Linked DNA regions of Homo sapiens. The protein of the gene in region 3 interacts with the protein of the main gene of each other region in a biochemical or structural test. Each region holds a gene or a part of one and is shown on either strand. Other genes may lie near its edges. The genes, in order: DMD, DTNA, SNTG2 and VCPIP1.

Evidence for each region.
Region 1: the proteins of SNTG2 (region 3) and DMD form a complex in vitro, tested with the Homo sapiens proteins (one study listed by BioGRID).
Region 2: the proteins of SNTG2 (region 3) and DTNA form a complex in vitro, tested with the Homo sapiens proteins (one study listed by BioGRID).
Region 4: the proteins of SNTG2 (region 3) and VCPIP1 form a complex in vitro, tested with the Homo sapiens proteins (one study listed by BioGRID).

The regions. Positions count from the first base shown.
Region 1 is NC_000023.11:33,208,545-33,216,560, reverse strand, and holds the start of DMD (dystrophin), read left to right. Parts: upstream 1-5,011; 5' UTR 5,012-5,248; coding exon 5,249-5,279; intron 5,280-8,016. UniProt on the Homo sapiens protein: Anchors the extracellular matrix to the cytoskeleton via F-actin. Ligand for dystroglycan.
Region 2 is NC_000018.10:34,713,274-34,720,300, forward strand, and holds part of DTNA (dystrobrevin alpha), read left to right. Parts: intron 1-7,027. UniProt on the Homo sapiens protein: May be involved in the formation and stability of synapses as well as being involved in the clustering of nicotinic acetylcholine receptors.
Region 3 is NC_000002.12:953,849-960,875, forward strand, and holds part of SNTG2 (gamma-2-syntrophin), read left to right. Parts: intron 1-7,027. UniProt on the Homo sapiens protein: Adapter protein that binds to and probably organizes the subcellular localization of a variety of proteins. May link various receptors to the actin cytoskeleton and the dystrophin glycoprotein complex.
Region 4 is NC_000008.11:66,657,205-66,664,231, reverse strand, and holds part of VCPIP1 (deubiquitinating protein VCPIP1), read left to right. Parts: intron 1-7,027. UniProt on the Homo sapiens protein: Deubiquitinating enzyme involved in DNA repair and reassembly of the Golgi apparatus and the endoplasmic reticulum following mitosis. Necessary for VCP-mediated reassembly of Golgi stacks after mitosis.

The DNA.
Region 1 (8,016 bases), on a different chromosome or scaffold from region 3:
GGGCATATTGTGTGATGTGGAGGTTTGGGGTACTGATGATCCAGTCACCCAGGTAGTGAGCATTGTACCCAGTAGGTAGTTTTTCAGCTCACACCCGCTTCCCTCCATTCCCCCTCTAGTAGTCCCCAGTATCTCTTGTTCCCATCTTTATGTCCACTGTGTACTCAGTGTTTTGCTCCCATTTATAAGTGAGAACATGCGGTATTTGGTTTTCTGTTCCTGTGTTAATTTGCATAGGATAATGGCCTCCAGCTGCATTCATCTTGCTGCAAAGTACATGATTTCATTCTTTTTCATGACCATGCAGCTAACCAAGGAGGTGAAAGAACTATACAAGGAGAACTACAAAACACTGCTGAAAGAAATCAGAGACAACACAAATAAATGCAAAACATTTCATGCTCTTGGATTGGAAGAATAAATATTGTTAAAATGGCCATACTGCCCAAAGCAATTTACAGATTCAGTGCTAATCTTATCAAACTACCAACGTCAATTTTCATTTTTCATTTTCATTAGAAAAGACTAATCCAAATTTGTATGGAACCAAAAGAGCCCATAGAGCCAAAGCAATCTTAAGCTAAAAGAATAAAGCAAGAGGCATCACACTACCTGACTTCAAGCTATACTATAAGCCTACAGTAACCCAAACAGCATGGTACTGGTACAAAAACAGACCATAGACCAATGGAACAGAATAGTGAACCCAGAAACAAAGCGACACACCTATAACCATCTGATCTTTGACTAAGTCAACAAAAATAAGCAATGGGGAAAGGACTTCCTATTCAATAGATGGTGCTGGGAAAACTGGCTGGCCACATGCAGAAGATTGAAATTGGACCTCTACTTTTCATTATATACAAAAATCAACTGACGGTGAACTAAAGGTTTAAATATAAGACCTCATACTGTAAAAAATCCTAGAAGAAAACCTAGGAAGTACCCTTTTTTACATTGGTCTTGGCAAAGAATTTATGACTAAGTCCCCAAAAGCCATTGCAACAAAAACAAAAATTGACAAGTGGAACTTGACTAAGCCAAAGAGCTTCTGCAAAGCAAAAGAAACATCAACAAAGTAAACAGACGAAGAATGGGAGAAAATATTCACAAAATATGCATCTGACAAAGGCCTAGTATCCAGAATCTATAAGAAACTTAAATCAACAAACCAAATACAAATACATTCATTAAAAATGGGCAAAGTATATGAACAGACACTTTTTTTTTTTTTTTTGAGATAGGGTCTTGCTCTTAGTCCAGGCTGAAGTGCAGTGGCACAGTCTCGGCTCACTGCAAACTTCACCTCCCCTGCTCAAGCGATTCTCCAGCCTCAGCCTCCTGAGTGGCTGTGATGACAGGCGCCTGACATCACGGCTGTATTTTTTTTAGAGATGGGGTTTCACCATGTCGCCCTGGCTGGTCTTGAACTCCTGAGCTCAAAGCGATCTGCCTGCCTCAACTTCTCAAAGTAATAGAATTACAGGCATGAGCTAACACACCCGGCCTGAACAGACACTTCTTGAAAGAAGACATACAAGCGGCCAACAAGCATATAACATTTTTTAACAACGTAAACATTTTTAAATGTGCTTCTTTTTACAAACTGGCCGAGTGTGGTGGCTCATGCCTATAATCCCAGCTCCTGGGGAGGCTGAGGCAGGAGGATTACTTGAGGCCAGAAGTTAAAGACCAGCCTGCGCAACATAACAAGACCCTGTCTCTAAAAAAAATATTAAATTAGCTGAATATGGTGGCATTCACCTGTAGACCCAGCTACTCAGAAGATTGAGGCAGGAGGATCACTTGAGCCCAGGAGTTTGAGACTATAACGAGGTATGATTGTGTCGCTACACTCCAGCCTGGATGACAGAGCAAGCCTCCATCTCTTAAATGAAAATTTCTTAAAAAGCAAAAACAAACAGGAAAAGAACGGGTTTTGGAAACTCTGCTGTTTTCCTTTTTTTGTGCAATCACATGCATAACCGACAGTAGTGCCATTATATTAGAAATATTAATATATCTAATCACAACACAAAGCACTGTGTAAAAAAGCCGAGTATGATGAAATAAATTAAAGATAACCTAAATATTGGACATATGTACTATGTTAATGAATTGGAGGAATCAATGCGGTAAAAACATCAATTCTTCCAAAATGTATTCATAATTTTAATGCAATTCCTATCAAAATTCTACCTGAAAGATATTCTGTAGATAGATCTGTAGATCTATTTGTAGATAAACTTATTCTAAAATTTATATGGTAAATTATAACCACACTCTGGGACATGAATCTAGAGGAATGAAAAATGAAAAACTACATGATTGTTTTGCAGCTTTATTTGTAGTGACCAAACCCTGGAAACAACGAAAATATCCCACAGTATGTGAATAAAGTAACTATAGAACATCCATGCCATGAACTACTACTCAGCAATAAAAGGAAATAAGCTATTGATGACAACTTAAATGGATCTCAAGTACAGAATGCCAAAAAAAAAAAAAAAGCCAATCTCAAAAGGTTACATACCGAATCATTGCATTTATCTAATATTCTTAAAATGACAAAATTACAGTGATGGAGAACAAATTGATTGGTACCAGGCTTTAGGGATATTTAGGGAGGGTGACTGTTGTGACTGTAAAGGGGTAGCATGAGGCAAATCTCTGTGGTGATGAAACAGGTGTTTATTTGTGGAGGTTGAGGTTACACAAATCAGTGATGAAATAGAAATATGTATACATATCAATGTCAGTTTCCTGGTTTTGATACTGAATTGTAGTTATTGTAGGATACTGAATTGTAGTTATTGTAGTTAATCTTTGGGAGAAACTGGGTGAAGGGTACATGGGATCTCTGTATACTATCCCCGCAAATTCCTGTGAATCTATAAGTATTTGAAAATAACAAGTTAAAATAAATTTTTAAAAATTCTGTGACAGTTATTAAAAATGGAAATTTGAGCAAGTTCCTTTATTATGGGGCTAATAAGACCTACAAGATGTAGTTATTCTGAGGACTAAAGGAGAAAGATAAGTGATTAAGGGACACAAGAAAGTACTGTGGTGACACAGTCTGAACTGGAGTTCAATTTGTTCGGTCTAAATTTTATTTTACGTGCCTTTCACTTTTCCAGTTATTGTAAGCATATATTTGCACCTGGATTATAAAATCTTAAGGGAAGTATATGCATTCCACACAATGCAGAAATCATTATAGGTGCCAAATAAATTCTGATTATCAACTAAGGCTGAATGGCAATTAAATGTATCTCAGGGCATTCAGATCTATCAGGATTTGGTGCTTTAGACATTACCCAGGACACATCTTTGTTACATTTAGAACCACGGTTGTTTTTAGAAACATACACTTTAGGGTTTCTCAAAGTTGACCATGCATTAGAATCACCGGTAAAACACAGAGTGCTGTGTCCCAACCCCAGAATTTCTGACTTTTGAGGTCTCGTGTCAACTTGCATTTCTCAGAAGTTCCCACGTGATATTGATGTTGGTTTGGGACCGACAAGTTGTATTCACGCCTTGGCCTAAACAAGGGTTTATGTTTGTAGAAAACTCACAGTGCAAGATACAAAGGGCACTTATACTCTGGGCAATATTGTACCTCACAGCATAGAGGGACACTGATGCTAACATGCAGACTTAGAGCCAAATCAGCCCCAAAACAATTTTTTCATTTTTTCTATGTTGTTTTATGAAAATTTTGCTTATATGCATATTTAGACAACCACACTGAGAGGAAAGGAGGTGACCTAGGGAAAAGAATGTTTTAAATTAAAATTAGGCCTTATGTTTTATCTCATACACCTTTTGCTGGGGAAAATAGCAATGTTATGACAATAATATTCTAAAACACAAAATGTACAATTAACTATTAAGGTAAACATCACAGTCTGACTCAATATTTTTTTAATTTTTATCTATTACTCATTGCAGTCGCAAGCAGTTGAATGTTTGACATAGAAAAATGAGTCTGTCACTTTAACAAATGGTACAATAAAAACACTCAAACAAAAATTTTAGTAGGGATTATTATAACTATAAAAAGAATATCTTTCTTTAAAAAATGTTTCCAATGTTTTCTATCAATTTTGGGCTCGCCTGTTGCATAAAAGTAATAAGGAACAAGATGAAGAAGCTTTCTATTGGCAAAGAATGATTTACATGCTGAATGACATAATACAACTGTATTCACTTAATACAGAAAACAAGCCTCTATTCAGAACCATTAAATGATCATTAACTCAATGTCTAAAAAAATGGTGTTTTAAGAATTGGCACCAGAGAAATGGAAGAAAGAATAATTTGTTAGTAAAGAAGTTTTAGCATAATTCACAACTGAAATTTAGGATTTGAGAAAAATTTCTTTCCTGCATTATAAGAGTATTCTTTATTTTAGCAGGAAAACATGTCCCATGAGACCTATACACACACACATTCTGCCTTCAGAATTCAGCTGCTGCATTCTGCTGCTGCTTCTCTTATTCAGACTGTTGGCATCATCAATACATAACTTTTGATTGAATCCCAAGGGGAAAAAATAACTTTGGTAGACAGTGGATACATAACAAATGCATGGATTATTCTGGGCATTCCTTTTTATTTGGTAGAGTGAAATTTTTGGTGTTGTTGAGAGGATAAAAAAGGCATTTAAAAGTCAATTTTGAATCCGGATTTTCTGCTCTGTTAATAAATTCACATGAAAGTTACAGAAAGTATTGTTATGCTTTTGTACTGAATAGTTTTTGTGTTTAGAAGGCTTTAAAAGCAAGTACTATGTCCACTGTGCTATTCTGGTTTGGATATTAATCAGAACACAGTTGAGCATTGTTTGAATTCACAGAGCTTGCCATGCTGGAAGCACAACCTTATATGTAGTGACCATGGACAGTCCTATTATGGGAAACCAACTTGAGAGAGAAGGCGGGTCACTTGCTTGTGCGCAGGTCCTGGAATTTGAAATATCCGGGGGCCTCTACAGAATCCTGGCATCAGTTACTGTGTTGACTCACTCAGTGTTGGGATCACTCACTTTCCCCCTACAGGACTCAGATCTGGGAGGCAATTACCTTCGGAGAAAAACGAATAGGAAAAACTGAAGTGTTACTTTTTTTAAAGCTGCTGAAGTTTGTTGGTTTCTCATTGTTTTTAAGCCTACTGGAGCAATAAAGTTTGAAGAACTTTTACCAGGTTTTTTTTATCGCTGCCTTGATATACACTTTTCAAAATGCTTTGGTGGGAAGAAGTAGAGGACTGTTGTAAGTACAAAGTAACTAAAAATATATTTTACTGTGGCATAACGTTTAGTTTGTGACAAGCTCACTAATTAGGTAGATTGATTTTAAATTATCACAGTAGTTTGCAAAGAAGCATAAATGTTATATATACTGCATATATATATGTATTTATTCAGGAATATATATTTTTCATTGGGAAAACTTTTCAACAGAAATGGAGTGTAAAAGTTTTTCTTTGCGATAGAACTAAACACATGATTTCTTGATTAACAAACCACTGCAGTAATAGAATATGCAGAATGTCATTTGACTATAACAGATTTATTTTGATTGCTGTGAGATAGTTTGTATATCTGAGTTATTATTTTGATTAGTTGATACTTCCGTATTTAGTAACAGTTACATAAAGGTTACTGACCTGACATATATTCTCAATTGAACTAACTACTGTATAGGAACTACATGGAGGCCTAAAAGTTAGAAAAAGTTTCTCTGACACATCATGGATAAAATAAAGAATAAAATGAGTTGGGACGGATAATTGAAGGATGTGAAAAGTATTGATAAAGATTTAATTTTAATGTTTCTTACTCACATTTACTATTTCAAATGCTCTTTTCTGTAGCATATCATGATAATTATTTCAAATAATGATGTGATCTATGCTATCAAATGATCAGATGATTTCTTGGGTAAACGACATACAAACTTGAGGAACTCCTAATTATATTTAGTAGTAAAGTCACCTTGTTGTTTCATGTCTATTATGAGCCAGCTTTTCAGTTCAATTTTTTAGTTTGTCTTTCATATAGAAATACAACTATTTCGTTTATTTTTAAGAAAGTCATGATGACTAATGAAGGATTTAAAAATGGACTGTGGCACAACAGTAAAAATAATATATGATAAGGACTGTGTGTCCCGAAGAGATGGGAGTTTATCTCTTCCCCACCCATCTTTGACTTGTGGAGTGTAGTTATTCTAAAATAGATATGAGGGCAATGCCTATAATTAAGAATGAAAAAATAAATCTCTCCAAATAAGTAATGCTCCACAACTACTAAAAAAAAAGGCAGAAGTTTTGCCACTGGGAAAACTTTGTGGAAATAAGTTAACATTGTCCATGTATTGAGTCACATTAAAAGCTACCAGACTTTATAATACAATATTTACTTACATTGTTGGCTTGCTTCATAAATTTCTTTTGGTGGACATCATTATTACTTTTAGATTGAAAAACTATTATATTTACTATCATTACAAATATATGCATGGCATATATCTGTTGTTTGCAATATACACACACATTTTTATTTTTTGTTTTTATTTCTTTGATATATGTAACATAAATACCATCAAAATCACTAGTGATTTTATATATATATATATTCTACATAATTAACATCATATACAAGTATATAGAGCAATTTTGAAAGAATATATGCAATTCTGCTGAAATTAAGCAAGGTAAATCTACACTCTGCTTTGTCATAGATATTCAAATAACTTTCAATTCTTAGAATGCGAAGAAAGGTAATCTTTTTGGGACATGCCCTGTAGGATTTTTTCACGCTGCATTTAAAAAATCATCAAGTAATGCCTATGCAACATGACAATGAGTTTGGTAAGAAAAAACGGAGATATACTCAGGGCTATATTATACATTAAATTTTGCTGTTTGACAACATACTGCTACTTGGATGTTTGACATTTGAATCCAGTTTGTAAATTTGCCGTAGTTTGATAAACTTACAAAAGTACGTTTTGTTGTTTTTTAACCAAAACAGTTACCCTTTAAAAGAGATCACTGTATTGTCAAACATATTGTATTGTTCACTTTTAGAATTACTCAAATAATGCATTGTAAAGAATTATTCAAATAGTGTACTGCAAATAGACATTTCATTTGAATATATTTAAATGATGTAAGTCATCTGAGGTCTAATAAAATCACCTTTTAGAATTTCATCTGCAGAATCTTTTAAAGACATCTTAACTACGAAAAAGAGATTGCTGATCTAAATTGATGATATACTGTTAATACAAAGCTTTTGGTGTATCTTACATGACATAACATTATGAAAAATACAATAGAGTATGTCATATAGATGTTACTCTAAACTTTAAAAAAAGACTACAAAGTGTTCTATGCATAATTACATTATTTAAGGGGAAAAAGGTGTTGGCTGACACTATTCCAGCTAGACAGTACTGAATTGCAAATTCATCATTTGGGCACAGATATTAATACAGCTTCCTCTTTATTCCTATAGCATTCATTTGAAATCCCTGTACTCCATGTCATTTGCTACATATGAAACAAATTGTCAAGTTTTTAACCACTTGTGTAGTTTAATAAAAGAGATTAAAATCATTGTCTTGGAAACATCAGGTGTTTTTCAAAATTCTATTTTATTATCTTTCATCAAAATTTTATCTCAAGAGTAAAACAAAGTCATTTCCCAAACTTTCCTTCTCCTTCCACCTTCTATTGTAATATTTTCCTAACTTATTAAAAATGATTTATCATACTTTTTCATCAACTCTTTATTTCATCACACATACAAGAAACACAGTATTTTGGTATGAGTATATATATTTATATATATGCACATTTATATGCATTCAAATCACAGGGTATAAAGTTTCCTAAGAGGGTCTAATTAGAAATTAACCTTTCTTTAAAGATAATTTTCTGTTCATTTTTCTAAATTTTCTATTTTAAACACACATCATTTTTTAAGGAATTGACAAATGA
Region 2 (7,027 bases), on a different chromosome or scaffold from region 3:
GGTAGTATGATTCTCAGAAATTAACCCTCAAATTTAATTAATTATGTTAATAGCATTTATAAGTCACTAGGAATAGAGGTGCTTGGTATGTTATTATCAGACTTTATTATAAAATATCTTGGTTTTGTTCAATAAGCGATAGAGGCTGTCATCAAAAATGATTAAACTTAGATATGCAGCGTTATTTCTGAGGGCTCTGTTCTGTTCCATTGATCTATATCTCTGTTTTGGTACCAGTACCATGCTGTTTTGGTTACTGTAGCCTTGTAGTATAGTTTGAAGTCAGGTAGTGTGATGCCTCCAGCTTTGTTCTTTTGGCTTAGGATTGACTTGGCGATGCGGGCTCTTTTTTGGTTCCATATGAACTTTAAAGTAGTTTTTTCCAATTCTGTGAAGAAAGGCATTGGTAGCTTGATGGGGATGGCATTGAATCTGTAAATTACCTTGGGCAGTATGGCCATTTCCACGATATTGATTCTTCCTACCCATGAGCATGGAATGTTTGTATCCTCTTTTATTTCCTTGAGCAGTGGTTTGTAGTTCTCCTTGAAGAGGTCCTTCACATCCCTTGTAAGTTGGATTCCTAGGTATTTTATTCTCTTTGAAGCAATTGTGAATGGGAGTTCACTCATGATTTGGCTCTCTGTCTGTTGTTGGTGTATAAGAATGCTGATCTTTGACAAACCTGAGAAAAACAAGCAATGGGGAAAGGATTCCCTATTTAATAAATGGTGCTGGGAAAACTGGCTAGCCATATGTAGAAAGCTGAAACTGGATCCCTTCCTTACACCTTATACAAAAATCAATTCAAGATGGATTAAAGACTTAAACGTTAGACCTAACACCATAAAAACCCTAGAAGAAAACCTAGGCATTGCCATTCAGGACATAGGCATGGGCAAGGACTTCATGTCTAAAACACCAAAAGCAATGGCAACAAAAGACAAAATTGACAAATGGGATCTAATTAAACTAAAGAGCTTCTCCACAGCAAAAGAAACTACCATCAGAGTGAACAGGCAACCTACAAAATGGGAGAAAATTTTCGCAACCTACTCATCTGACAAAGGGCTAATATCCAGAATCTACAATGAACTCAAACAAATTTACAAGAAAAAAAACAAACAACCCCATCAAAAAGTGGGCAAAGGACATGAACAGACACTTCTCAAAAGAAGACATTTATGCAGCCAAAAAACACATGAAAAAATGCTCACCATCACTGGCCATCAGAGAAATGCAAATCAAAACCACAATGAGATACCATCTCACACCAGTTAGAATGGCAATCATTAAAAAGTCAGGAAACAACAGGTGCTGGAGAGGATGTGGAGAAATAGGAACACTTTTACACTGTTGGTGGGACTGTAAACTAGTTCAACCATTGTGGAAGTCAGTGTGGCGATTCCTCAGGGATCTAGAACTAGAAATACCATTTGACCCAGCCACCCATAAATCATGCTGCTATAAAGACACATGCACACGTATGTTTATTGTGGCATTATTCACGATAGCAAAGACTTGGAACCAAGCCAAACGTCCAACAATGATAGACTGGATTAAGAAAATGTGGCACATACACACCATGGAATACTATGCAGCCATAAAAAATAATGAGTTCATGTCCTTTGTAGGGACATGGATGAAACTGGAAATCATCACTCTCAGTAAACTATCGCAAGAACAAAAAACCAAACACCGCATATTCTCACTCATAGGTGGGAATTGAACAATGAGATCACATGGACACAGGAAGGGGAATATCACACTCTGGGGACTGTTGTGGGATGGGGGGAGGGGGGAGGGATAGCATTGGGAGATATACCTAATGCTAGATGACGAGTTAGTGGGTGCAGCACACCAGCATGGCACATGTATACATATGTAACTAACCTGCACAATGTGCACATGTACCCTAAAACTTAAAGTATAATAATAAAAAATAGAAAAAAAAATGATTAAACTTATCAAGAATTGTACAATGTGTGGGTCAGTATCTGACAGGAAAAATGCAAACTCATTTCTAGGAAAGAACAATTAGTTATATTTTTAGTATATAAAGGGGCAATTAACTGGTCTTCACTTCATGGTATTATTAGCTGGATATTTTAGAGTGGTATTACTATAATAATTCCCCACTCTCAAACACACATGTTATGAAATGTTCACTAGACACCATTTCAATATTTTAATTGTTTTTAATTTTTTAATTATTTATTTTAAATAAACAATATTTTATATCTGAAACCTGTTAATTTTGATTTGTTTGGTGGAACATTTACTCAGAAAAATTACTTACCTCTACACATCCCTGACATGAAAGAAAATACTGGATGGATTGGCAATTCCAGTATAAAATATGGATCTATGAAAGTAGTGAAAGAAAATATAGAACTTATGATAGAAAAGGATGACCTCAAAGACAAAAATCATAAAGGAATGGTAATATGAAAACTTACTCCTTCTAGAATATGTTATATACAAAATTAAAAAGATAAATGGCAAATTAGAAACAACATTTGCAACATATATGAAAGAGAAAAAGTGAATATCCATGTTATGTAATGAGGTCTCATAAATCTGTAAGAAAAAGCACTTCCCTTTTAATTTTAAAAATATCTACAAATTAAACACATGTCATTTTAATAATTAGCAACTATTTTTTAAAGGGGAAAGCAAAAGGAGGAAGGGGGAGATAATGTCTGGTTTAGGAAAAGTCTGGAAAATGGGAACACATATACACTGCTATCATATAGCAGTGTACACTGGGTGCAGGTGGGGAGTTGATCAAGCTGGCAATGTGTAGCAAAGTCTTTAAAAATTGCATATCCTTGGGCCCTACAGTTCTACTACTAGGAATATGTCCTAACAAAATAAATAGTCTAACGTATTTACATAGTTTTTCGTTGTTTCAGACAATAGCAGTCTGAAAAAGAAAATCCAAGAAATATAGAAAACACATGAGCTCGTATTTCCTCTCTAGAAGCTATAAAGCTGTAAGAAGTCGGCCGGGCACCGTGGCTCACACCTGTTATCCCAACACTTTGGGAGGCCGAGGCGGGTGGATCGCCTGAGATCAGGAGTTGGAGACCAGCCTGGCCAACGTAGTGAAACCCCATCTGTCCTAAAAATACAAAAAATTAGCTGGGCGTGGTGGCAGGCGCCTGTAATCCCAGCTACTTGTGAGGCTGAGGCAAGAGAATCGCTTGAACCCAGGAGGCGGAGGTTGCAGTGAGCCGAGATCACACCATTGTACTCCGGCCTGGGCAACAAGAGTGAAACTCCATCTCAATTAAAAGAAAGAAAGAAAAAAAGCTGCAAGAAGTCATAGACATGGCTATATGCTGGTCTAACTGTTGACTTCCCAACTCTTTAGATGGAACATGTATAGGCAACATGGTGTAGAAAAAGAGTCTTGGCTTAAGAATTGGAATGCCTGAATCATGCTACTAACTAGCTGAGTTAATATAAATATGCAAATTTATGAAATTATTAAAATAATAATGTTAAAGAGTAGAAAAGTCTGTGAATCCCTTTACCCATGTATATGTGTTTGTCTTCACCGCTGATTTGCAAATAAGAAGTCTCATATCAAGTGGGAAGGGTAGATTTTTATAATTTCACTGAAATTCAATACCAAATGGTAAAATCTGGAATGCCTTGACTGTGAGAGAAAATAACAAAATATTTTAAATAGGGTATACATTCCAATTATTAGTTTTTGAAATTTATTCTAAAGAAATTTCTGCTCATATAAGGATGGGCAGAGGATAACTGGGCTTGAATAACTGGGCCACACCTACATTTAGGTGTGGTGGAGAGGCAGAGCTCCAGAGCAATCTGTTCAAAATTCTGTGATGCTGGAAATGCTCTATATCTTCTTAGTCCAATATAGTAACTACTAGCCACATGTGGCTATTAAACACTTGAAAGGTAGCTAGTGCGACTGATGAAACAGATTTCAAATCTTATTTAATGCTAAGTAATTGAAATAGCCACGTGTGTCTAGTGCTATCTTAATAGACAGTGACACTCTAGAATTAAGCACAACAAATAGGGTCTTTTATTTAATATCGGAGGTTAATTTCAAGCACCTCTGCTAAATTCGGATGATATAGATAGGACAAGAAGGTGAGTATTCTTTGTGCAATTTCCCTTTTATCTACAGAAATACAGATCAATGAAATCCTTTGATTCTAGTGACTGCAAGTCCAAGATTTTCCAGAGAAGTGTTGGTCTCAAGTAGTCTGTAGTTTTGTTTGCTTAAGAATTTTAATGCTCATTCATTTTCTCATTTATTTTTTTTAAAAAACCTTATATTGAATATATTTGTGTTGGACACTGACATTGAAAAGATAGTAGTAGTGCAGAGTTCCTTGATTCAGGAAATCCTTGGAGTATCCTAAGGAGTAAATGGTGCAGAGCAGATATTACAGAGGAGGGGAGAGAAAATGCTGTGTGGAGAAGGAAGCACTGGGATAAACCTTAAAGAAATGGCCAGTGTTCAATAGGAAGCTGGGGAAAGGAGGATCTTGAGAAACAGAACAGTATGGGAAAACCAGGGAGAGATGAGAATCAGAAATGTCTGGAAATGTAATAATGGCAGCAGCACAGAAAATAGACTAGTGTGTAGACAGAAATGAGTCCAGAAGTTAATGTTACAATCCAGAACAAGTATGAGGGAGGTTATGAGCTAAGGGGATGAAAGTAGAATTTAAAAAGAGTAGATTTGAGAGGTGTTTTGTCTGTTGCTTCTCTTTACAATAAGTCAGGTAGAGAACAACTGATTTATCTTTTAAGCCCCCTTGAAAATTGTCGATTACTGCATACAATGCTGGAGCAGGATTTTTGTGGCCAAGGAAACTGAGCGTATCTTACAATATGCAAGTTTTTCAAACAGGACCAACTTACATAAATCATCCTCTTGGAAGTAGGCGCAACTACATCATGTATGTAGTTGAAATGTATGACACATGACAATTTTGTTTGGGGATGTAATGTAACTGAGGTGGAAACTTAATATTTATGAGACTTCCTCTTTCGTTAAAATCTTAACATTCTTTGATTTTGACAAATAGTGTTTTTATTTCTTCCAAAAATACAAGAATTTTAAAAGTATATAATTAGGCATCGTTTAGAAAGGTCAAAAAAGCAATCGTCTGTTGAATTTATGATTTGGGTACATTATTCTTCTCCAGTCTTTACCCCATTTTGATGGACTTTTTTCTCTTGGCAGTATATCCAGGTTCATTTATAGGTGGGAAGACAGTAGAAGCTGTTATTCCAGCATCAAAGCCCCCACTGTTTTCTAATAAGACGTTAGGTTTTATTTCTTCCAAAGCCTTATGATCACTGCAGTCAAAAAAAGAAGGGTGGAAAATGCAGAAAAATGGTGGAGGAGGTGGAGTATGGTCTTGGTCATAAAGAAATGAAAGGAGAAAGGTATTACTGAAGAGTATGGGCATTAGTCTGACTGTAAGGAGGACTTTGGCAGTAACTACAAGCCAGAGTGAGTGAGGAAAGAATAGCAGCCATTTGGGCAATGTGCTGACCATGTGTGGCTTGATACTAGGAAACCTGAACATACAGCAGGACAGAGAGGAGCACATCATGTGAGAGTTCCATGAGTTCTCGGATTTAAGAAAATAGAAGACTTTCTAAGTGCCAGATACTGTTCTAAGTACTTTTTGTTTAACCTATTTAAGGCAATTAACCCTTTTTTTTTGGAGAACAGTCATAGAACATGGAAATCACTGAAGAAATGTAAGTAGTGGTGGGATGCAGTGGCTCACGTCTGTAATCCCAGTACTTTGGGAGGCTAAGGTGGGTGGATCACCTGAGGTCAGGAGTTCAAGACCAGTCTGGCACCAACATGGCGAAACCCCGTCTCTACTAAAAATACAAAAACAAAACAAAAACTAGCCAGGCATGGTGGTGTGGGTCTACTGTAGTCCCAGCTACTCAGGAGGCTGAGGCAGGAGAATCACTTGAACCAGGGAGGTGAAGGTTGCAGTGACCCCAGATCGCACCACTGCATTCTAGCCTGGGTGACAGAGTGAGACTTCATCTCAAAAAATAAAAAAATAAAAAAATAAGTAGTTATTATCTCTCCATCAATCCTCACAACAACCCTATGAGCAGGGTACTTTTACCATCTTTATTTTACAGATGAAGAAATTAAGGCCCGAGAGGTTAAGTAATCCCCCAAACAGCATACAGTTAATCAGAGAGAGCTCTATTTAATCAGCTCAACTACTACGCCATCCTGCCTACTCTTAATCTATGTTAATTTTATAATATGTACAGAGATGATACTTGTAACGTGCTCACAAAGTGCCTGACATATAGTAAACCTGCAAAAATGTTAGCAATTATCATTATGTAATAAGATTTAGAAGACTTTCCGGTATTTATGTCATTCTACACCGACACTGCTCAGAAATAGTAACAAGATTTTTAGGGCAGCTCTGGATTTTTCTTATGTAAAGTGTAAAGAAAGCTTTGTTTAGGAGCATGCCCTTATAAATTGGAGAAACTCTTCTTCTACCCAAATACTGTCAATCAGTTTGACTGGCACAGTTGAAGTTTTTACCTCAAAGAATGGGCCTCATTGAAATGTTCTATATACTCATCTACATGGCTCTGACCTTCTGACAGAGAATGACTGCTGCTAATGGTACTAATAAGAGCAAATGGAATTCCCTTCCAAGCTTGGTATTTGAATAATATGTCAATTTGTTCATTGCCGTCTTACTAGGAATTAAATGCGCTAATATTTTTATAACCTAAGGGAGCTAGTGCGAGGTTGGCAGCCAGAAAAGGGAATCAGGCCAGAGGCTGGCCAAGGCATAGTCATGAGGGGGTGGAAGGGTCACAAAGTCAAAGTCAAGCAGGTGGACCCAGGCAGAACCCAACCAGACTCTAGAACAAAGTTAGGTTCAAAGTTTGGTTCTTATCTCCTTTCCCTATAATGTGGGCTGGTAGGGGTGGGTTGATTGTCATCCTCTGTACAAAAAGAATTGTATGG
Region 3 (7,027 bases):
CTCTGGATATCTTTATGGATGATGACTGTAGACAAGGCATTTAAGCTTCAGTTTTAATTTAGATCTGCTTCTCAAGATACCCCATGAGGCTCTGAGTGAGTTGGCAGAGGGGCTGGCATTGCAGTTCTCGGTGACAGAGGGTGTGTTTGCATCGCAGGCCTCCTATTTACTAAATGGGTATATTCAGGATAGACTTACTAAGCAGTGTGATTTTCTGGCTTTCCTGTTAGCTCATGTAGCATGTGACAGCAGGCACACGAGGGACCCCAAAGAGGAGCTGCTCTCAGGCTCTGCTGCGCACCCCTAGCTCCTGCGCTGCTGGGCATGGGGCGGACACAGGCAGGTGCTCGTGGAAATGGAGAAGGAAGGAGGGAGATCAGGGTTCCAGGGAACTCAGAGAACCCCGGCTTCGGGAACCACCATCCTCTCTGGCTCTGGCTTCTCACCTGTGGAATGTGTGCTTGGGTTCCGAAGGTCACTTTGTATCTGATTCCAAATCCCTCAGAAACTCACTCTTTAATTAGTTCTAGAGGTATTTTTGTTGAGTGAGACACAACAAGGAAGGTGGAAAACATGCTTTTGGAGGAAAAATGCACTCAGGATTTAATGGAAAATGGACCTTGAACTGGTGTGTACTTGTCATTGTTGTCCAGCTGGTTACCGCATGTTGTCATGACTGTAGTTTTGAATAGTCGACTTTGGATTATTTTCAGCTAACACTAGATGTCACTTTCCCCCAGTCCATACTAAAGTTCCCTGTAAAATTCAGGAAGCCGAGGTTATCCTTCCTATTTCTGTATTAAATGCTAAGCTCCCCTATGTGGGTGTAATCCCTCACCTGAGGACTGACCCCAGCCTGTGGCTCTTCATCCCCTGCCCCTCTGAACAAGAAGGCCCTCCAAAAGCTCACCCATTTCTGGCTGCCTTCCAGGGACCGTGCTGCTTCTTCACCCCATCAGCCTGAACCTTCCTGTTTTCTCCCCTTGCACATTTTAATAAATACTGTTAACAATGCTGTGAATATGAGGATGTGATTTTGCAATTAGAATTACATGTTAAAATAGTTTGCTTTTTAAGGAGTCTACATTTTTACATCCTATAAATATGATTATAAACTAGCTACATTTTAATTTAGCAAAGACTTTGGATTTAAGAAAGTGAGTATGCTTCTTATTTAGGGGATACTGTTCTAAACATTTGTAAAATGTAAAGTTATATTTTTAGTGCAAAAACTATTAAACTTCACAGTCTGCTAACTGCTAAACTGCTAAGTTTTAATTCTGTTTTATCTGTTATACTTTGTAAAGAAACTGCATGTCATTCACTTCTCTGGACTTGAAACCTAGATCAGTGCATGGCCTGTTATTTTGCAATAATCCGCATTAGTGTTAATGAAAAAGGTGACCCTCCACTGTCAAGATTCTGAGTATCAACTCTGGGAGTTACCAACATTCACTCGACATTTGGGTGAACATCATTTGATGATGGCACCGAATCGTGTTATTATAAAAACAATCACATAGAACATTAGAATCAAGTGTCCTAAATATCGTGCTTATTGGCCTCCATTTTATAAATTTACTTTTCCTCTTGTTTTTATTTGGACCCCAGCTCCAGAAGACAAACTTTCTTCTTGTACTCAGCCAGTGGCAGTGGTCTCTAAGTATGGACTGACCAGGAAATCACTGTAATTACTCCTACCTTCATCAAAATAGTTTAAATGACAAATCCTGTGCAAGAATTAAATTCCACTTCTGTAAACAATGCTTATAGTTGCAGATGTTTTATTGTGTAGTTCATAAATTATTATAGGTAAGGGCACAGCCATGGGGACGCACTCAGATTCCATGGAAGAATGTTTCTGTTCGTTGAGCGGGTGTTTAGAAAATAATCTGCATTTTTGAAGTGGGATACAGCTGCCAGTTGTTCTGAACAAAATCATCACTTATTTTGGATTTGGCAGCAAGTCCTCTAGCAAGTCCTCTCACTCCGAACAGGGAGGCCTCCCGTAGTCTGGGGTCCCAGCTACCCTCCTTTTAGAAGCTGGTGCCAGGGAGGCCAAGGGGCCCACATCTGCCACTGTCTCCGGCCCTGCCTCAGAGCCTTCCCTGCCCCTGCCCCTGCCCCTGCATCTGCATCTGCATCTGCCCTGGCCCCACCCACTGCCCTTGTGACTGTGCTGGCCCCTGCCCCTGCCCCTGCCCCTGCCCCTACCCCTGACCCTGACTTGTGCCAAATGCTCCGCACCTGCCCCTACCCCTGCCCTGCCCCTGCCCATGCCCTGCACCCACCGCGCCCCGCCCCTGCCCCTGCCCTGCACCTACCCCTGCCCTGCACCTACCCCTGCCCTGCCACTGCCCCTGCCCCTGCCCCGCCCCTGCCCCACCCCTGCCCCGCCCCGCCCCTGCGCCTCCCCCTGCCCTGCCCCTGCACCTCCCCCTGCGCCTGCCCCTGCTGGGCATTCTGCGCGGACCTTTCCAAAACTCCTCTCTGCAGCTCAGTCCGGAGCAGGGTTGTGTTCTGCCCTTCCCAGGCTGGAGCATAACCACTCACCCCGTGGCTGCATCCTTCCTCCCTCGGGCCTTCACACACCTTGGTTGGGCACGTGGAGCGCTGCCTGCCCTGGCCCAGGGCCTTTGCTCAGCTGCCTCTCCTGGAGGCTGCATCTCACCAGGCGCAGCACCTGCCCCCGCAACCCATGCCCCTTCCTGCGGAGGACCCGCTCCCCCAGGGCCCCGGCCCACCCGTGGCTGTGAATGGGCCCATCTCGGTCGGGCGTCTAGGAGGGAAGTGGCACCTGGGTCCCCTGCTGCTGTGAGCCCGTGGAGGGGCCGCTTTCAGAAGGACACAGCCCGGGGAACTCGGTTCTGCCCTGCTGCGTGGTAGCTGACCCATGTGTCAGTTGAGCCAATAAGTATATATCTGAATTAGATGTATGTGTTTCTATGAACTAGAGAGAAAGTTCCGTTTCTGGTTTTTGAACTGATAATTTATTTTGTATTTATGCCCAGTTTATTTGGATTTAAGTAAAATTGTGCTTTCATATTTTTAGAATAGCTATGTTTTGATTTTAATTTTTCACATCAGCATAAGTTTAATGGTAAATATAATTCTATTTCTCAGCTGTATCCTGCTCAAGATTATCCTTCATGACTTCTCTGCAGATAATTATATTTTACCAAATGGCTCTGTCAGTTTGCCTTTTTACATGATTAAGTTTTCTTTATGTACTGAGAAATATGAAATTACTTCTTATACCTAAACCTGGGGACATCCAGAACCCGATGAGTTAGATGCAGTGTTTTTAGAAACGTGTGCCAACTTGGTCATAGTTAGCATAGGTCATATGGTCTTGAAAGAAATCCAAGTCTGGTTTTATTCCTAAAACGATCATGGTCTGCAGCAAGGTAGATAGAGAAAGTCCAGCCTTTGTATTACCTCCTCAGAAACACTAGAAATTTTACCACCTCCCTGCTTGAGGGGGAGCAACGGATGGGGAACGGTGGTGGGAAGTAGCTCTGGGTCTCAGGCCTCCTTTTGAAAGTTGGGGGTTTGGCGATGATTAAGTGCCATTTGGAGAATTGCTTTATCATGATGCACCTTACGTACGTGCAGACACAGACACACAGAATTTAGAGAAGAATGATTGAGTACCTATTAATTGCCACACACTGAGCTGGAAGCTAAAGATAAAAATAGAGTAGAACACCTCTCAGACCAGGCCAGTGGGGCCCTGACTACCTGAGAGGCAAATTCTAGACAAGCAGACACGAAACAGCACAGGGCAGCTACAATGTGTTCCCTCTTCTATAGATGAGGTCGGGCAACATTTGTCTTCCGGCACATGGAAGGCGAGACTGGTACTGAGACTGAGACTGAGACTGAGACGGGAGAGATGCAGTCACAGGCCAGGGGCACCTGCAGCCACCAGAGCTAGAGGAGGCAGGAAGGAGGCTCCCTGGAGCCTCTGGAGGAATTTGATCCTGGACTTCTGGCTTCCAGAACTGTGAGAAGATAAATGTGCATTGTTTTAAGCCACTAAGTTTGAGGAAGTGTTGTCATAGCAGCCGTGGGAAGCTAATCAGTCTTTTTAGGTAAGTAATATAGCTTTTAGGGAATATCTTCTTAGAAATGTAGGGAATTTGAGCCCAGAACCCCCAGGTTAGAACTTACCTAATTGCTAACATCTACTAGGTACTAAGAGCTCTTTGGAGGGCTTCGTTCCTTTAACACCCCTGGGGTACTGCTGATGCTCCCCACCTACACATAAGACTGTAGAGACGGCAGGTGAGGTGTGGTCCGCATGGTGGCTGCAGCCCCTGGGCGTCTGACTGTGAGAGAGATGTCTCTATCCCACGTGCAAAGGCTGAGAAATGGCCCCAAATGCGTTTCCTTTAAGTGGTTATTGCTTGTGAGACAAAAGGATAACAACAGGAATTAGGAAATCAGAATCAGGAGGAATATACAACTGTTTTCTTATAACTGAGGTTGTCATACAAAATGGGAACAGGTTCATAAGTCGAGTAGATGGCAACAGCTCATGCAGCCCCTCCCCACACACATAGCAGTGAAATGATGTTGAGATCATGCAGAGTACTATGTGATATTCTCCAGATTTGGTGCTTCAAGATGGATTTTTCATAAAAAGACTCTGCAAAGATATGACATTTTATTGAAGCTGAACTAGCAGAAGCTTTGTCAATTACCTACACTGTAATTGCTTTAAAAAGGAAAAAAAAGAAAACCTCTAAAGTCACCATTATCTAAATTGGGGTTAAGAATTTGAAAGGTATTGAGAACATGAATTTGTAACCAAAATACATTATAATCTAAATAAATGGTCTTTTTTTTTAAAGTGGTTCATTTGAAATCCAGAGAGATATGAAAAAAATTGTGTGGACTTCCAAATTATTTTCTATTTTAGCTTTCTAGATGTAGTACAGTAAAATGTACTATTTCTTACATAGTTTAATATTTTGATGTTAGGAGTTATAGTATCAAACATGCCTTATGACAGTCAAAATTTTGGGATAGTACGATATCTAAAACAATGATGCTTGGGTAAGAGTTAAGAAATTAGAACCAAACTCTGAAACTGCTAATAACAAAAGGTAATAAAGGATAAGGACTCACACACAGATAAGACCACTTTTTCTCTGTATATAAAATACATTTGTTCTTTGTAGCAACAAAATGAAATAGAACAAATTGTAATATATTTTGTAATGTATAACACTTATATAAGGTTTAATTATATTTAAAAAATTCATTTCTATGTTGAATAATATTGTAAATTTAGTAATCGAATAAAGAGGAAAATCTAGTAGCTGAAAAAAGGAAGTAAACTGAAAGCTTTCCTATCAGAACAAGATACAAACCCACTAGGAAACAGCTGCATATGTGAATTACGTGCTTTGTAAGCGCTGGGATGTAAATATTCTTTTATGCAACTCTTCCTTATTGAATTGAGGAGAGGACCAGCACAGATCTATGAAAATGCTATGAGCTTTATGTATTGCAATTATTTTCTTCCAAAGCTTTATCAAATTTTGTCGTGACCTACAGATTCTTTTGGTTTTAATCAGGGTGGAATCAGAATGCTTTTAGATTTGTAATTTCCATGTTGGCAGGAGGAAGGGAGTCAGGGAGGCCTGGAGTCGGGGGGAGGTCCAGGGTTCAGCTGTGCTAGGGTCGCCTGGTGCAGGGGGCTGCCTGGGGGTGTGGTGTTCCCGCAGTGGGCTGTGCAAAGTCTCAGGGCGGCCTTTGCTTTACTGGCCTTGGGCTGAATGGAGAAGGTGAACGGAGCAGACCAGTGTCACAGAATTGCATCGTGCAGGCCTTGCCTTTGTGACCCGGGGCTGGAGGCTGCATCTCGGGTGCCGCTGTGCAGATGGAGGGAACCTTTGGGGATGTGATTTGAATCTTCCTATCCCCTTCTTTGGAGTAAATACATTTCCTTTATTCCTTTGATGTTTGTATGAATAGTGGCATGGTATCCGTATCTCAGTACTGAAAGTGAATATGAGATGGAAAAATACAAGGAAGGAAAGTTCCTGTGACCTGGTCTATACCTATCTAGCAGCTCATAGATTTCCTTCTGGCTTTTTCTGGTGTATATTCTGTAAGTTAAACTCATCCTCAAGATAGAATTTTCTATCCTGCTTTTTAGAATTCTCATTATAAAATGATAATTTTCATAGTTTGCTAAGAAATATCCATCAATTACCATCATCCCCCTGCTTAAGGTTCTTCTGTATCAGTGGAGAGGCTTCGGGCAGGTGTTCCCGTAGGAGGGGGCTCTGTTAATGACACGGTCCTTTGCCCTTCTGTCTGGAAAGCAGCACCTGTCCTTGCTGCACTGGCTCAGGCGTCTGTGACTAGGGTGACAGTGTTGCTTAGGAATCCCAGCTGATAGCCAGGCCTGTTCCCTGGTAGGATCCCACAGTGGGGAATGCTGGGCTTCTGGGCCCCACAGTTCTCCCGAGAGCTCGGGCTGCCTGTTCTCCTTTGTTCTCTCCTTTGTTGGGAATGCTTCAGTGCACGATGCTTTTCAGGGTAGGGTCATGTGTGCCTTATTTTCTCATCGGTGAGATTGGATTCCTGTTGTCTCCCAGGTGAGCCCTGGAACTCAGGGTTCAGCTGGATGCAGACAGAGGACTCTGCCCTCGTGGAGGAGCTGGGAGCACGGTGAGCTCTGAGGGTTCCGGGGCACGGCTATAGGTTCTGAAGGGGGTGCTCCTACTGCCTGCTCATGGGAGCACGGTGAGCTCTGAGGGTTCCCGGGCATGGCTGTAGGTTCTGAAGGGGGTGCTCCTACTGCCTGCTCATGGGAGCATGGTGAGCTCTGAGGGTTCCTAGGTTCTGAAGGGGGTGCTCCTACTGCCTGCTCATGGGAGCACGGTGAGCTCTGAGGGTTCCCACGCACGGCTGTAGGTTCTGAAGGGGGTGCTCCTAATGCCTGTTCATGGGAGCACGGTGAGCTCTGAGGGTTCCCGGGCATGGCTGTTGGTTCTGAAGGGGGTGCTCC
Region 4 (7,027 bases), on a different chromosome or scaffold from region 3:
CTGATGGTATATCTTAATTGTAAATATAATACACTGAGTTTTCCTGTTATCTTTGGGGGAAAAGAAATCTGTAGCCATTGTAAGTTTTTAATTATATATTTCAGGAGAGAATTATTTTTAGTATTTTGAACAGTTGATAGATGTTAATAGGATTATTGAGTAACTATTAGGAAAATAGAAAGTTAAGGTAGTCCCTCAATAATAGTCAACAGATTATTTAAATATATCTTATTCTTGCAATTGCTTTTTAAAAAACAGACTTGTATTTATTTAAAGCGTTTTAAATTTTTTGGTAGGCTCTATTGATCCTGCCTACCTTGCCCCTTTTTCATTTATTTTTAATTTTTATTTTCCTGTATGTCATGTGATTTCAGCACTTCCTGTTTGATGAATTGCAGTTTCTGGTGTTTATATTCTCACTGCACTCCCACCTAGTAGTCTCTTACATTTCATTTTCTTCCTTTCCCAGTTCATCACATTTTTCTTTCTCATACACTAGGATTTGTATGTAAGTACACTAGGATTTGTATTTAAGTAATTTCACTACTCAAGTCTTTGCCATCAATTATAATGAACTGTTATAAGTTGTAGTTCATGAGAAACATAAACAGAGATGGATGGTAATGGTGTAAAGAAGTATTTGTTTTTAATCAGCATAAATTAAAGAAAAATATATTAACCAAATGTGTAATTTAAAGCTTTAGATGATTTGGGATACTGTTCAATGGTGTACTTTTTACAGTGTCTATATTTGCTTAGTCTTTGTTTTGAAATAACTTAGTATGCTTTACTAAGTCTTAAAGTATGAAGTAAAATTTAAATGTGTTAGTTACTGGAAGGGTTTTATTTTTGCTGAGATTAAAGCTTTCAACGAGAAAAGTCATCTGGGTTTTGATTCTGTTTTCTGATAGTACTATATGGCAGTGATTTGGGCCTTAATCTATCAAAATGAATACTACTCCTGGCTTATCTGGGGGAGTAGTAAATAGGGGATCTAAAAACCCTGCACAAATTTAGAACCCGGAATTGTTGATTTTAGTTTGCCAGACATAGTAATTGAATTGGGGAGTATGTCAGGAACTGTCCTACGCACTTTATATATTTCTTTTTTTTTTTTCTTTTTTTTTTGAGATGGAGTCTTGCTCTGTCTCCAGGCTGGAGTGCAGTGGCGCCATCTCGGCTCACTGCAAACTCCACCTCCCGGGTTCAAGCAATTCTCCTGCCTCAGCCTCCCAAGTAGCTGGGACTACAGGCCCACGCCTCCATGCCCAGCTAATTTTTGTATTTTTAGTAGAGACGGGGTTTCAACTTGTTGACCAGGATGGTCCTGATCTCCTGACCTTGTGATCAAGGTCACTTAAATACGAATGCTAGTGTACTTAAATACAAATCCTAGGTGGCCTGTGACTGTAATCCCAGATACTCTGGAGGCTGAGGCAGGAGAATCGCTTCAACCCCGGAGTTGGAGGTTGCGGTGAGCCTAGATCGCGCCACGGCACTCCAGCCTGGCGACAGAGCGAGACTCTGTCTCAAAAAATAAATAAATAAATGAATAAGTAAATAAATAAAAGACCTTCAATCTCCCAGGTCAAAAACAGGAAAGAGAAGATCTTCCTCAATAGAAGATGGACTCTTGAGAATGTGGCTCTTACCTTTATCCTTGTATGCACAGAACCTGATAATAGTGCTCAGCAGGTAGTATGCACTCTGAAATGTTTTTTAATTGAATTAAATAGATGACATTAACACAGCTAAAGAAAGGCTGTATCTGCAGAAATGGAATGGATGGTCAGTCAGCACTGAACATTGAAAAAAGTGAAAAGCAGAATTCGGCAATGTTCATATACTGCTGTACAAAGGAAAAAGGTACATCATCTGGGGTTCATGAAAATTCTGGTAACTAGAAAGGTAATCTCTGTCGAGGGGTAGGAATATTTGAACAATCCTGACTGTGGCCTGGCTGAAACATCTCTATCCCTTTGCCTGATTTCCATGTTCATCAGGCATCTATTCGTAACACTTATTTAGCTTCCTGATAACAAGTTTTGATGTACAGGTGACAGTGCAGATAAGGACGTGTTCACTTTGAAAGCTGTATTCTCCATTGTAGACTAATAAACGGACATGGGCAGGATTATGATCAGTAGTCTTAAAAATATGATCAGAGCCAGTCACGGTGGCTCATGCCTGTAATCCCAGCACTTTGGGAGGCTGAGGCGGGCAGATCACGAGGTCAGGAGTTCGAGACCATCCTGGCTAAGATGGTGAAACCCTGTTTCTACTAAAAATACAAAAAAAAAATAAGCCGGGTGTGGTGGCAGGAGCCTGTAGTCCCAGCTTGTCAGGAGGCTGAGGCAGGAGAATCTTGTGAACCGGGGAGGCAGAGGTTGCAGTGAGCCGAGATCGTGCCACTGCACTCCATCCTGGGCGACAGAACAAGACTGTATCTCAAAAAAAAAAAAAAAATCTGATCGGTATGATTATATATAGATTTTTGAGACAGAGTCTCACTCTGTCGCCCAGGCTGGAATGCAGTGGCGCGATCTCAGCTCATTGCAACCTCTGCTACCTGGGTTCAAATGATTCTCCTGCCTCAGCCTCCTGAGTAGCTGGGATTACAGGCATGTGCCACCACACCTGGCTAATTTTTTTGTATTTTTAGTAGAGACAGGGTTTCACCGTGTTAGCTGGGATGGTCTCAATCTTCTGATCTCATGAACCGCCCGCCTCGGCCTCCCAAAGTGCTGGGATTACAGGCGTGAGTCACTGTGCCTGGTTGATAATATATTTCATAATGAAAATTAATCAAATATAATTCTGGTGTATAAATACTTTCTGAGTTTGGTTGGAGGTTCTTGGACCTGAATATCTGAGAGAACCTAGAGTATGGACTGCAATGAGTTCACCAAGATAATGTCTTTCTATTCTGATCCCTTCCCTCTTCATATCCAGCATTTATGCCTGTATAAACCCACAAATTTCTTTAAAACTTCTTCCACTACCAACACAAAATTTGGGTGTAAAAGAGAGCATTGTGTTACTTTTGTAATGATATCACTTGAGATACTTTCTGCTTTAAATTGAAGTATTAAGTGCATAGCCTGTATTATATTAGTCCCTTATAAATCTTAGTTTTCTTCCTCTAGTTCGCTTATGACTGTATTTGAATTATGTAGAAGATTTTTTTTTTGAGACAGAGTCTCGCAGTGTCGCCAGGCTGGAGTGCAGTGGTGCGATCTCGGCTCACTGCAACCTCTGCCTCCTGGGTTCAAGCAATTGTCGTGCCTCAGCCTCCCAAGTAGCTGGGATTACAAGCACGTGCCACCACACCCAGCTAATTTTTGTATTTTAATAGAGAGAGAGTTTCTCCATGTTGGTCAGGCTGGTCTTGAACTCCCGACCTCAGGGGATCCGCCCTCCTCGGCCTCCCAAAGTGCTGGGATTACAGGCATGAGCCACTGCGCCTGGCCGAAGATATTCTTAATTTAAAAAAAAAGATGTTCCTACAAAATTCAGTTTGGGGATAAATACTAACCATATGTAAAGAGTACTGGGGAACTGTTGATGTTTAGATTGGAGAGGACTAGAAAATGACAGAGCTTGTTTAGAAGATTACAGATTTCAAAGTGCAGAAATTACTTTGTGAATTACCAAATGTGAGCTAAGCTGTGTTATGTTAGTTTAGAATATAGCTCATCAGACTTTATGCTGTTCAAATAGCTGGTTCTTTCTCGTTTAAGTTTAGGCTTAAATACCACCACCCTGTAAGGGTTTGAGAAAACTTTGCTGACCATTCTAAGTAGGTTCCCTCTATCAGTGTACCCTGTTGATGTCCCTCACGGCATCTATCACAATTTTTAATAATCTTATTTGTTGGTTTAATTATTTGTTTGCCTCCCCCACTATATTATAAAGTCCATCAAGACAGAGACTGAACCCTATTTTCTTCACTAATCAATACCTTATTTCCTAGTTCAGGGCCTGGCACATAGTAGGTACCAAGTAAATGCTTGTTGGATTAATGAATGCAATTATTTCAGCAAAATCAGTGTATACTATGAACTTGTATGTATGTTGAGTGTACAAAGATAAATGAAAGTCAGTGCTTGCCCTCCATTAACTTACCTGCAGGCTTTCAGCTGAAGGAGTTCCATACTTTTTAGCTTTCATCAGCAGATCTCCAGCTTTATTTTCTAAATACATAAAAATTATAAAATCCCCAAATAGGACCAACACAGCATTTTAGAACTTCTCATTTGATTAAGAATCAAATATATACATGGGGATTGTATATTTTCTTTCTTTTTTTTTTCTGGAGACAGATTGTCGCCCAGCCTGGAGTGCAGTGGTGTGATCCCAGCTCACTGCAACCTCTGCTTCCTGGGTCCAAGTGATTCTCAACCTCTCAAGTAGCTGGGACTACAGGTGCGCACCACCACGCCCAGCTAATTTTTTGTATTTTTAGTAGAGATGGGGTTTCGCCACGTTGCCCATGCTGGTCTCGAACTCCTGAGCTCAGACAATCCACCGCCTCGGCTTCCCAAAGTGCTAGGATTACAGGCGTGAGCCACTGCACCCGGCCTGTATGTTTTCACTAAATGGGCTGACTGCATGATAGCCAGGGACATGAGCTTTTTCTTTCATTTTTAAGTAGGATATTCATTGATTAGATCGTCTATTACTTATATTAATAAAACAATAAGTAGGTGTATTAGTCTTTGGCTTAGTACAAGTCATTCATGGAACCTAGTAACTTTGAATCTTAGGAACTATAAAATGGAATAACAATATTTTACCCATAATATTTTACATTTTTAATCTCTTTTATCCAGACCACAAAGTAATTGAACTTAATTTTTTGCAGACAGTCATCTTCATTATTTATATAATACTTAAAAGACTAACTCTGGCTTTGCAAAATATGTCATTCAGATTTCTTGTAGACCTGGTGCGGTTGCAGTGAGCCAAGATTGCGCCACTGCACTCCAGTCTGGGCAACAGAGCAACACTCTTTCCAAAAAAAAAAAAAAAATTTCTTGTAGATCAGTTATTTGTAGGTTTTCTTTCATGGTAGACAGGATAGGTGGTACATTATCCACCATAAATATTTGGGCTAATTTATTTTTTCTTAGTGTTATATTTCATTAAGTTTCTAGTTTTGTTTGTTTTTTTGTTTTCCTAGAGGTAAGGACAGATTTAGGTGAAGAACAGAATTTGTCAGTTTGGAGTTACTTAAATGAAATTAGGCTACATGACACTTCCTTGCTTTACTACAAAGTGTACCAACCTTTCAGGAGTTGAGAAACTTGTTTCATTTTGATATACTTTCTCTGTTCCTGAAAGAATTGTGTGGCTTTTTAACGTATATATATATTTAAAATACACAATATTTTGTAATTTCATAATACCTCTTGATGTCGTAAATGCCTTAGAATTTTCCAGAATCGGCTGGGTGCGGTGGCTCACGCATTTAATCCAGCATTTTGGGAGGCTGAGGCGGGTGGATCATGAGGTCAGGAGTTTGAGACCAGGCTGGCCAAGATGGTGAAACCCCGTCTCTACTAAAAATACAAAAATTAGCCGGGCATGATGGCGCTCGCCTGTAATCCCAGCTACTCAGGAGGTTGAGGCAGGAGAATCACTTGAACCCAGGAGGCGGAGGTTGTAGTGAGCCAAGATCATGCCATTGCACTCCAGCCTGGTGACAGAGTGAGACTCTGTCTCAAAAAAAGAAAAAAAGAATTTTCCAGAATCACGCTTGGGACTGAGACACTTATTTTTTAGGTGACAACTGAATATTATTATTGCACCTTTTTTTTTTTCAAATGTTGGGTAAAGGGCAGTTTCAAATCTAGATAGTACTTATGCATATTCTTCTTTTTTTTTTTTTTTTTCCCCAAGATGGAGCCTTGCTCTGTCGCTCAGGCTGGAGTGCAGTGGTGCAATCTCGGCTCACTGCAACCTCTGCCTCCCAGTTTCAAGCGATTCTCCTGCCTCAGCCTCCCGAGTAGCTGGAATTACAGGCGCCTGCCACAACACCTGGCTAATTTTTGTATTTTTAGTAGAGACGGGGTTTCACCATGTTGGCTGGGCTGGTCTCGAACTCCTGACCTCGTGATCCGCCCACCTGGGCCTCCCAAAGTGCTGGGATTACAGGCGTGAGCCACCGTGTCTGGCTGCATATTATTATTCTTTCTATGCCTTCTGATAGCCCTTCTGTTGATTTATATGTAGCATACTTGTAATGGGAGAGCAGTTATAAAGTTGAATAAAAAATAATGCATAGGTGTATCTTAAGATAAATGTATATATTGTAAATGGTGATTTTATATAATTATACTTTGAAAATTAAGTCAAATATTGATGTTATTCCTTTCTAGATAGAAAAGGAAATCTAGATAATAATAGATTCTGTTCCAACTACTTTGATCACTTTTATTTTAAATATTTTTTCAATTACAATATAATGTTTAAAATTCAAATAATTCAAGTACCTATAAAATATGGTAGTTCTTAACATTTGTACTCCCCAGATAAAATCATTATTAATAAATTGGGATGTGTCCTTTCAGACTCTGTACACATTTAAACACTGTTGAGTTTGTGTGCATGTCTGTGTATGATAAAAATATTCATTAATGCTGCTGGTGACACTAAAGTTGTGTGACTATATACCGTTAAGGGGACTGAATTTCAGGCAAGAAACAGATATGCCTTTTTTATAAACCATTTTGACTATCAATAGGGTAGATAAACTTTTAAACGTGAGGATTACGTCAGGAAGGGTAGAGAGATGCCAACAATTCTTTCAGCAAATGAATACCTTTACCTTTGGAATTCTGTCTAGTTGAAACAGTCCTGTGTTCCTACTTTATATTTGGAACCATTTATTCAAATTATTAAAAAATTTTGAATTGTTTCTTTAAATTTTAAATTTAAATAAACAAGTACTTCATTTTATGGTCATAAATAGTTGAGTTCAGAGTTCGTTTTGGGTGTTTCTTTTGGGGCTTTAAAAATACATTTT